4 separate regions of the Homo sapiens genome follow, and all the other regions are linked to region 1. The links come from fine-mapping of genetic effects on gene expression. A gene starts in region 1. Each other region holds a variant in brackets. All regions are shown on one strand. Distances are between the middles of the regions.

Region 1 (2,749 bases):
CTATGTTACCCAAGCTGGAGTGCAAGTGCTATTCACAGACCGATCATGGCATACTACAGCCTCAAACTCCTGGTTTCAAGCAAGTGGCTAAGACCACAAACGTGTGTCAGCGCACCCAGCTCTTTTCATATCATTTTTACTACCTTTTCCCATCCCACGCAAAAAATGCAGAATACAGAAACTTACCCACACAAGCATTGAGGAAGAGCCAATCAGTCTTTTTCATCCTGTTTTTAATTTGCTTTAGTTTTTTAAAGTCTACTTCAAGTTCCTCCTTGCTTCCCACAGCACCAGCCAATTCAATCCTCTGAAAATCCATTTTCACTTCAGAGTCCCGCTTCGTAGCAGGAGGTGATCTCCTTTGGCTATTACCACTACTGCAACTTCCCCTCCATCGAGCTCTGTCTTGCTCATTTATTATTGAAGAAGCCTCTTCAGTCTCTGCCAATTCTATTGCTTCAATGTTATTAGGTCTGGGATGATCACAAACAACACATCTTTTAGCCTTGGCCCAGTTTTCATATGTGCAAACAGAGCAAGTCCAGTGCTGTGTCCTAGTGTTCAGTTTATTTCTATCATTGTATTCCTCACAAGGATCAACAGAAAAAGCAACTGGTCTTGAGCCAGATCCTGAGGACTGAGGAGATTCTGTAGGACTCCTGGTCCTACGTTGGGATAAGCACTGGGTACATCTGATTGCTCTTGGCCAGTTCAAATATGTACACATGTGGCATGACCACTTATTTGCATTTTCCATGCTATACGAAGATTTCACCCTTGGTCTTGCACTAGAGTCTGGACATATCAAAGGACTACTTCCTCCTTCGGTGCTGGAAGGATCCCAATCTCTACCAACATCACTTGAACCACTTTTAAATGGATCTTCTGTAATAATTGTTCCACTAGGTCTTTGGGCACGACACATAGTACACTTGATTGCAGATGGCCAGTTTTCATACGTACAATATTCACAAGCCCACTTAATTCCACGTTCTGACATTGTGCACTTCTTGAAGTGAGCTGTGTCAGGCAGGAAGCTATAAATAATTAGGACATGGTTATTAAAATAACTACATTCCACCTCCAAAAATACGCTGCCCAAAAAGCAAGTCCTTCAACCTACAAAATATAAATTTCTCAAAAGATGCATGCAACATTTCGACATTGAATTATCCTAATTTTCTTTTTTAATTTCCATAGAAACACTGGAGATAAATTCTCAAAGAAAAAATCTTAGACCCTGGGATTTAATAAAACTGAACTTTGGAATGCAAAAGAGATAGGCAGGAGATATAACGAGGTTTGATCTAAGAAGGATGAGATTAACGGGAAGCCACTAATAGAAATGTTTAATTTCAGGGAGGCCATCACATCAATTTAGAAAAGTAACCAATAGTTTAAAGAGACAAAGGTAGAGGAAACAACACAAACTAAAAAATAGCTTAAACACATAACCATTCTCAAATTATGAACACAGATTATGATTCATGAATTCAGAAGATCAAGCAACGTCTATTTTATCATTCTCGCTAAGGGAGAAAAGCAACTTAAAATGCTAATTATCCACTGTTCTTAATTAGCACAGGTAGTAAAGAAACATGTTGAGAAGTAATGGCTACAATTAACAAAGTAACATTATGAAATAGGTAGTTCCTTGATAATCTGTAGCCTCAAAATCTAGTTCTATCTGGAGTAAAAAAAAGAAGACTGTACTGGGGAAAATTAAATCTGTGGAAGGTCACTGAAATAACCAGTAGCATAATCATTCCAATATAATTGTGAATGTTCATAATTAAAATATTTTAAATTTTGAATATTTAAAATATACTCAAAATCTAATTCATGGCCGGGGGCAGTAGCTCAAGCCTATAATCCCAGCATTTTGGGAGGCTGAGGCGGGTAGATCACAAGGTCAGGAGTTCAAGACCAGCCTGGCCAAGATGGTAAAGCCCCGTCTCTATAAAAATACAAAAATTAGCCGTGCATGGTGGTAGGTGCCTGTAATCCCAGCTACTCAGGAGGCTGAGGCAGAGAACTGCTTGAACCCGGCAGGCAGAGGTTGCAGTGAGCTAAGATCGCACCACTGCACTCTAGCCTGGGTGACAGAGTGAGACTCCATCCCCTGCCCCCCAAAAAATCCAATTCATATTTAAAAGATATTCACACTACTTAAAAGATTTCTAGGATTCAACAATGGGCTAACACTACACTATAATGAAGAAAGACTTCATAATTTAATGGCAACTAATTCATAAATGAAGCAACTTACATAACAAATTTAATTTTTTTTTTTTTAATGGCTTGAATTTAGACACTGGCCACTTTTCCTAAATACTTTTATCAACTCAGTATCATCCCAACACCTATTTTTCACCCGGAAAGAGAAAGAAATCCTAGGCAGAGTATAGAAGCTTTGCTCTCTCTTTCTCAGGGATTTTTCCTGAACCTAGAGGGTTAAATCTTTTGTTTGTTTGTTTTTTTGTTGTTGTTGTTTTCATTTTTGTTTTTTTGAGATGGAGTCTTGCTATGTTTTGCCCAGGCTGGAATGCAGTGGAGTGGTGCAATCTAAGCTCACTGCAACCTCCACCTCCCAGGTTCAAGCGATTCTCCTGCCTCAGCCTCCCAAGTAGCCGAGATTACAGGTGCATGCCACCATGCCCGGCTAATTTTTGTATTTTTAGTAGAGATAGGGTTTCAGCATCTTGGCCGGGCTTCTCTTGATGAACTCCTGACCTCGTGATCCACCCAC
Region 2 (2,500 bases), 45 kb before region 1:
TTTTTAGACATTGATAAAGTCTTCTTTTCTTCACGTGATATTTTATACAAGAACACTTCAGATGTATTAGATGTGACTGATTTTAACAAATCCTATTAGATTTGTATCAACTAGTTACATGTTCTATTCATAGTCTTTTGTGAATCATTGCCTTTTTGTTTAAAAAGATGGCCTATTTTGAGCCTTTGTATAGGTACATTCCTGTTTTTGTGACAAAAGAAAAACTTTAAAATTGTCCCAAACAGAAAAATAATGGCTATCAGAAGTATGTTTTGTTTTAGTGTGAGTTACCGTTACTGTATTTGTTTATTGTAAAGGTGGACATTTAGCGTTCAGTGCAGTTTTCAATAAAAAGTAATTAAAATTTGTTAAGTTCTGAAATTCAAGTACATCTCACTAATGTAAATGTTCTCTACTTGAGATGTTTAAGGCAATTGCATTGTCAATTAGCCAATTTCCAGCTCTTGTTACTACAGGGTTCCATAACCAGACTCAAGACCGCTGACAATTAATTACCTGTGATAACAAAAAGTTTAATTGAAAAATCAAAACCTCACACAAGTCCATCATTATCACGTCATGCCATCCTTAAGATGCAATGGTGGGTTAGTGCTAAATCAATTCAAAAAAAAACAAAGTTGCTCAACTTTTAGAGTTCTGACTTTAATCTACCCCAAAGCAAAATGACCTGGACCTGGTTCAAGGGAGGGAAGTGAACCTTGAAACTGTTTTGCCAATAACCTAACAAACAAAATGATATTTACAAAGAAGTGTTGCAAATAGTCCCATGAGTTAAGAGCTTGATTTAATGGATCTTCTTTTTAAATAGAATTAAACCTTTATACTAAAAGTATTTGCAAGTGTCAATTAAGTCCAACAATTCCAGGTATGAAACTCCCTCTGAGCTCTTCCTTATACTTCCCTTCCCAATTAAAACAAAACAAGAAAATCATGGTGTCTTAAAGCCTTTGGCTTGCCTGGCCTTGTCTGCTCACTCATTTTAAGGTGGTGGCCCCATCCCAACTCTACCATAAAAGTGTCTATTAACACAAGCTCACATGGAGAGAGACGGCGCTCATAGTTACTGACCTATTACCCCAGGGAACAAAAAGGTAGTTTAACGTCTTCGTAACCACTCATCAAAGAGGCAATGAAATATGCGTGAAAAGGAGGCCAAGCGCACACAGAATATCTTACCTTCACGAATATGTGAAGAAGTCTGGGACACGATGAACCTAAGAGTCAAAAACATAAAAAGGCAGGTCTGAATCCATGGTCCACCTGGGTTTTAATTATTAGATCTTGGTCGCCCAAACAAAAATTTATATATATATATATAAATTTGACCCCAAGGAAGAACAAGTCAAAACAAAATGCCACGCTCTGTTTGCTCTAGAAAAAGAACCATCAAGTCCACAGAGTGCAGGTATGACTTACTCTCCAGAGTCAGTCATTAATGTCTGTCACCTAGCCACGTATAATCATCTTTGAAAAAGGACTATATT[C/G]TATCTTGGGACAATAATTATGGCTGTTTTAATAGTTCAAGAGCATAATATAGCATTGATTTACCAAAATTTTTGGCCTTTAACAGCCAGTCTATGAAAACCATTTAGAGCCCCATTCCTGTCTGTAGCCTAGGAAATGGAACCATCTTTAATTCTTTCCCACAGGGAAGAATGCTGCACCTATCACACTATGTGGTCAGGGTCACTGATTGATAATAAATAAATAAATAATAGAGCGCTCAGGGGAAACAACACTCACCAGACCACAACACACAGTAGAAGCTAAGTGCTGAGCGTGTACTCTGGACAACGCTGGCTGCAATGCAGACTGCAATGGCTACATGCTTTTCCCTCTAACAATTCTCTTTGGCTTTTTCAATTGGGAGGGCAGATTTTGCTTAACAGGCAACTAGAACAGGATCTCTGCCCACTAAAAAATTATCCCTATACATAGAGAAATTACTACAGATGCTAAGTAGTCAGAATGCTAACATTTTCTACAAACTTGATTACTTATTGGCCAAAATGAAAGCAAACAGCCAATTTTTAACAACACATTCACCACTTGAAACAAACAGCAGCATTTACATTATATCAAAGATTCATTTCTACAGAATCGTACTAAAAAATCATTTTTCCTGCAAGATTTAGCATGCAGCAAAAAATGATCTTTTCATCCTGGGAACACCTTTTTACTGAGTTTTCGGGGGGAAAGAACTAAAGACATGACAGTTTTGTGGGTATTTTTCTATTTTTAGTATTCTGGCAGCAAATTTGAGGTTGTACACATTTCATTATCAACTAAACAAAACAAGAAGCAAGCAAATACTTTAAGGTTTTCACAGCCTTTTTCATCACAGGGAAGGAAAAAACTGTGTGTGTGTGTGTGTGTGTGTGTGTGTGTGCGCGCGCGCGCGTGCGTGTGTCGTCTTTCCAAATTCCTGGCCACATCAATAGTCTAGAAAGTGCTTATCAGGACACCAAATATTTCTGTG
Region 3 (2,749 bases), 77 kb after region 1:
TGACCCTTCCTAAGGCTTGACAAACGTTAGCTATGGTTCTAAGCCTGAACGGACCATCCCAGGATAACCAGATCTCTCATCATTACAACATGCCAGGAATTGAAGTGGGCAAAAAACATCAGGTCAGACATGCTGGCGGGCCAAGGGCTTTGCAGCTTTCCACCAGACACTCAGACCGTCAGAGCTGGGGGCTTGGCAGCCTGCTGGCCAGGAGTTCCCGAACCTGGCTGTGCTTAAAAGAGAGACGAGGAGCTTAAAAGGCAGCAGACCAAAAAGCTCTCCGGGTCATCCTGATGGGTGGCCAGGTTTGTGGACAGCTGAGCTGCTCCAGCTCCCTTACCAAACGGCGGTGGTGGGGAGGTGGAGGCGCAGGGAGAAGTGATCTGTCCGAGTTCCTGAAGTCAGTCCGTGGCCATGCTGGGCCCAGCACTTGCCCTGTGACCCTCAAAGCCCCACCGTCTACCCTTCACTCAAGGGCTTCCTACAGCCGTGAGGATACAAGAGAACGCCTTGTGTCCTTGGAAGCATTTTTGTAATCTAAAATGTAGAAGAGTGCATTTCCTGCCTACATAGTTAAACACTTTCCTTTAGAAGAAAGGCTGGGGCCGGGCACAATGGCTGGCTGGGTGCAGTGGCTCATGCCTGTAATTCCAACATTTTAGGAGGCTGAGGCCGGCAGACTACTTGAGGTCAGGAGTTCGAGGCCAGCCTGGCTGACATGGGGAAACCCCATCTCTACTAAAAATGCAAAAATTAGCCAGGCATGGTGGTATGTGCCTGCAATCCCAGCTACTTGGGAGGCTGAGGCAGGAGAATCACTTGAACCCGGGAGGCAGAGGTTGCAGTGAGCCGAGATAGGGCCACTGCACTTCTGGATGACGGAGCAAGATTCTGTCTCAAAAATTAAATAAATAAAAGAAAAGAAAGTCAACTTCATGAAGTGCTATTTTAGCTGAATCTGAATAGAAGCCTTAACCTTATGGACAGAGAACTCCCTGGCTGGGAGGCTGGGTTGAGACCTTTACATTTGGAGGATTGTTTCCTGCAAATCAGGAAGAGGTGAGCTCAGCCGTCTGTTTTAGAATCCACTCTTTTCAGGAGGAGGGTAAATACCAGTCTGCTGTTTGGAAATGGAGCTTGGGTGTCAAATGACAGTCATTTCTCTTTAATGGCAGACATTTGTTAATGATTATATAAGTGTCCAGAGGTGAGGCTG[C/T]GACAGCCCGGACATCATTGATTTCCTAGAAATATATTTGTACTGAGGACCAGATGGCATTTGGACTGCAAGAGACACCGAGGCTCAGACAAGCAGGTCTTTGCTCCTGCCTCTCTCTCCTCCTGTTGGCCCAGCTGGCAGTGCCAGGAAGGGGCCCCTGTCCGCTGACTCCTGCACTGGTGGTCTCCTCCCCTGGGAGGGAGGGGTAGAGGAAGGGTTCATGGGACACACACAGGCCTCAGGGTCAGTCAGCTTCGGGATGATTCCTGGCTGGGTCACTTCCTCCCAAGTGGCTTTTGGCCAAGTGGGCCTCACTGTCATCACCAGAAAGCGTGGATAATGCCACCTATGTGGTGGAAGGAAGGTGTCCGCCCAGAGCCTGGCAGGCAGTGGGTGTGCCCTGAGTGACAGCAGCTATGGTCACCAGGCCTGGACTCCTCCCTGGCCTGACCTGTTTTGGGGCTGAGATGCTGGCTCACTGCCACGCTGTGCTCTAAAAAAGGAATGTGGTCTCAGGTCCTAGGCGGGGCAGGAAACAGAGACTGTCATTCCCAGCCCACGGGCTCCTCGCAGACCTCAGTCTCCCCGTGTAAGATGAGGGCCAGACGGAGGGTCTCTGGAGCTCTTCCAGCCTCAACAGGCTAAACATTTGAATGACTAGAGGCTTAGACTAGCCATCTCAACTCTGGCTGCTCGTTAAAATCACCTGCTGAGGCCGGGAGCAGTGGCTCACGCCTGTAATCCCAGCACTTTGGGAGGCCGAGGAGGGCGGATCACCTGAGGTCAGGAGTTTGAGACCAGCCTGGTCAAAATGGCGAAATCCCGTCTCTACTAATAATACAAAAATTATTCAGGCGTGGTGGTGGGCGCTGGTAATCCCAGGCACTTGGGAGGCTAAGGCAGGAGAATCGCCTGAACCCAGGAGGTGGAGGCTGTAGTGAGCTGAGATCGTGCCACTGTACTCCAGCCTGGGTGACAGTGAGACTTCGTCTCAAAAAATAAATAAAATTACCTGCTGAGCTCTTGAACCCTACCAGTGGCCCCAGGCCTGCTCCAGAAGCCCCGGGGATGGGCCCCAGCCCTACTCCAGAAGCCCTAGGGCTGGGCCCCGGCCGTGGTATTTGCTGAAGCTCCCCCGGGATTCTGAAGTGCAGCCAGGGGGAAGATCCACTGATAAGAGAAATATCATTTCAGGGCATTGATTAGTTTAGCCTCACGAGGTCTCCTCACTTGACCCTATCCCAGCTATGGGGCTAAGTTAAAAGCAAGACTTTAAAGGCCAGCCAGCAGGACCTGCTCTGCTGCCCTGGTTGGGAAGAAAACAGGTTGGAGGAGGCAGGAGACTTGCCTGGAGTCTGTTAGGGGAAGAGGTCAAGCATAACCTGGGCTGTGGGCCTGGTAGGGCTTCCTTGCACGTGGCCAGAGGGTCCTACTCCCAAGCATACCCACCCTGGGCTGGGAAGGGCAGCTCGCTCCAGGAGGGAATCCACAGTTCTTCCTACCTTTCCCCAGGCTTCTTTCCAACAGCAGGGC
Region 4 (2,749 bases), 66 kb before region 1:
TTAGTTCTGATTCTGTGTCTGGCTTTCTAGAAATCAGGTCTGCTGAGCTCAGCCAGTGGGGATCGGGTCATGCTGGATTGCAGAAAGCGGCCACTTAATTGGGGAGCAGGCCGCATTTAAGAGGAAGCTTTTCTGAGGGTGGTGGGATCGGTGGGATATTAAGTGGGGCTTCCTTGGAGGCAGGCGGGGCCTCAGGTTCGGCTGTGTTGGGTCACTCCCTGTCCCGCCCCGGCCTCTGGAGTTTGTGTGGTTTTGTCTCCTCTTTCTTCCTGGATCATTGTGCATGAGGCTGGGAGCCACACCGGCTGCTTAGGCTCCTCCTGCCTCCCAGGCCACCTGCAGGTCACAGGGGCTGATGAAGCCGTGAATCGCTTGGCTCTGTTTGGAATGCTCGTTCCCCGGTGCCATAAAGAAATAGCACTTGAACATAAATTTAATTTACTTAGTAAGGCCATTTTTACTTTCTGCAGAAAGGGTACACTCTCCAGCAGTTTTCCCACGAGAGTTCACCCAACAAAGGACACAGGGTCATTTATAACCTGACACGTCCACCCTACCGCTGTGTCCAGTTTCCGTTGGCTGGAAAGGGACCTCACATTCTCTATTTGTCCCGATTGGCTAGCAACTTAGAACTTTTTTAAAGAGGCAAAGGTAGAGGGGAACAAAGGAAGGAGGAAGTAACTTGTGGAATGTTGAGAAAGGTAAAAACACCTTCAAATAAGGAAGAGGAACAGGCTATGACCTAATGCTTGCTTGGACCAGTATAAGCATGCTAAGGCAAATATTTAGGCTAAATTGCGGGAGCTAAGAACATAACGTACATTGATTTCCTTATTACGGCTAGCAAATATTTAAGAATGTTAGCACAGATCTTTGAATAAATTTTGCCTCTAAGAGAAGTTAGTATTTATTCCTAATTAGACGGGGAGGAAAGTCTTTGAAGAGGAACCTCTGCTTTACTCTGTACAGCTCGGAGCTGCTTGCAGCACTCTGACACCTTCTGTCGGGATCTTTGGAAGACCTGCCTGGATCTCCCGTCTGTGGAAGGATCCAGGTACTTCTTACAACATCTGTGTTAGGGCAGCTGGTGACGGCACCCGGCAAATTCCAGCAACTGCCCTCATTCCACAGAGGCTCCCTCCTGCAAGGCCACTACTGTGACTCTGAGCAGCGGTTCTTCTCATGAATGTGATAGCTCGGTCAGCTCTAAGACTGCAACCTGCAGGGACTTCATGGGGCAACCCTGGGGTATGTGGCCAGTGTCTGTCCTTGGGCAGCCGTAGCCCCTGTCAGGAACAGGGAGTGACTCAGGCACTGGTGTCTTGAGACTGCTACGGTGTCAGGAAACTTCCATAAAATCTAGTG[C/A]GTTTTAAAAAAAGAGGCCAGAGCCGGCCAGGCACGGTGGCTTATTGCCTGTAATCCCAGCATTTTGGGAGACCGAGGCAGGTGGATCACCTGAGGTCAGGGGTTCGAAGCCAGCCTGGCCAACATCGCGAAACCCTGTCTCTGCTAAAAATACAAAATTAGCCAGGCATGGTGGCACATGCCTGTAGTCTCAGCTATTTGGGAGGCTAAGGCAGGAGAATCACTTGAACCTGGGAGGTGGAGGTTGCAGTGAGCGGAGATCGTGCCACTGCATTCCAGCCTGGGCAACAAAAGTGAAACTCTGTCTCCAAAAAAAAAAAAGCCAGAGCCAGCCTTTGCCTCCTATGTCAGAAATGATCATTTGCAGCTGCTTTGCTTTGGGGTAGAAGCCTCAAATCCTGAAACCCTTTACCCTGGGGCAGGTTGTCTTGTGCTGTAAGCAACAGAAACCCATTTAGATCATTTTTAAATAATGAGAATTTCTGTTGGAAGGATGTCGGCTTAGCTCACACAGTGTCTAGGAAGACTGGAAAATGGGTCTCAGAAACACTGCAGGCAGCTTTGTGTGGCAGGATCAATCCAGTTCCTTCTTGGTGACTGCTCAGGGGAACATCCCATTTGCCTTGCATGGTACTGAGCCAGAAGGTCAACTCCAGGCCTGTCTGCCTGTATCCGAGAAAGCAGCAGCTCCCCACAATGAAATGTAGCGTTTTCCAGCTCCGGATCCTTCCGCCATCCTCCCTGAGATCTACCTGCCTTAGGATCTGTGAGATCCACGCACTTTGCTTTTCCTGGGTGTCTGGTTACTGTTCACAAAAGTCCAGCAGTTTGGCCTGGTGTTGTCTTTGTTTTTGACTGAGCATCTCTCATTTCACAAGTATTTATTGCAGCTGCAGCTCTAAGCAATACCAGGCCCAGGGATGGGCGTCAGCACTGCCTTGAGCTGGTGCACAGCACATCCCGGACGGAGGGGCAGGGCCGTCCTGGTGCACACGCAAGCCTGAAACCAGATAGTAATTGATACCAGGGGAGCCGGCAGGGCTTTCTGCTCTACACAGTTAATGTGGGCAAGCTGTCAACAGTAAGGCACTGATGTCATTTCCGTGATGTGTCCAGTTGCAGCTGGAATTGTCCTGAAATGGACAAGGCAGGTTTACTGGCGGGAGACGGTAGAAAGGAAAAATAGCGCATAGAGGGCACCAGGGCCCTGTGACCCTCGTCCGCAAGTGTCTCCTCATACCTCGTGGTTGCGCACCGTGGTACGGGGCCACCCTGAGCGCTGACTCCCGGGCTGTGAAGTGGGAAGAACAGCAGCACTGCAGGACTCTTGTCAGCCTTGTGGTCTGTACGCATGGAAAAGGCCGTCAGCTGTGCATAGCAACTG

Which allele goes with the higher level. Alleles are on the strand shown, and positions count from the first base shown. SD is a standard deviation of normalised expression in the study named. Not every link is listed here.
As copies of C replace T in region 3, the expression in esophagus mucosa of the gene that starts at base 1,371 in region 1 goes up (small effect, 0.15 SD a copy in GTEx).

Evidence for each region. PIP is the estimated chance that this variant, and not a neighbour inherited with it, causes the effect.
Region 2: its variant is the best candidate, but not a certain one, in a credible set for the expression of ZRANB1 in whole blood (TOPMed, PIP 0.84).
Region 3: its variant is the best candidate, but not a certain one, in a credible set for the expression of ZRANB1 in esophagus mucosa (GTEx, PIP 0.52).
Region 4: its variant is the best candidate, but not a certain one, in a credible set for the expression of ZRANB1 in whole blood (INTERVAL, PIP 0.59).

Annotation. Positions count from the first base shown.
Region 1 is chr10:124,940,745-124,943,493 of GRCh38, reverse strand. ZRANB1 (zinc finger RANBP2-type containing 1) reads right to left here and starts at 1,371. Exons shown (of 9, transcript NM_017580.3): 1 at 187-1,371. The coding sequence starts at 1,000.
Region 2 is chr10:124,986,202-124,988,701 of GRCh38, reverse strand. ZRANB1 (zinc finger RANBP2-type containing 1) reads right to left here. Exons shown (of 9, transcript NM_017580.3): 9 at 513-2,500. It overlaps CTBP2 (C-terminal binding protein 2), which reads left to right. Exons shown (of 11, transcript NM_001329.4): 11 at 1-2,500. Among named protein-coding and RNA genes, the nearest start is that of ZRANB1, 45 kb to the right of the region's middle. The variant C/G (reference allele first, on the strand shown) is at 1,506.
Region 3 is chr10:124,863,430-124,866,178 of GRCh38, reverse strand. No RefSeq gene overlaps it. Among named protein-coding and RNA genes, the nearest start is that of ABRAXAS2, 63 kb to the right of the region's middle. RefSeq lists an enhancer at 1,222-1,721. The variant C/T (reference allele first, on the strand shown) is at 1,217.
Region 4 is chr10:125,006,888-125,009,636 of GRCh38, reverse strand. All of the region lies in intron 3 of CTBP2 (C-terminal binding protein 2), which reads left to right. Among named protein-coding and RNA genes, the nearest start is that of MIR4296, 25 kb to the left of the region's middle. RefSeq lists an enhancer at 1,280-1,785. The variant C/A (reference allele first, on the strand shown) is at 1,366.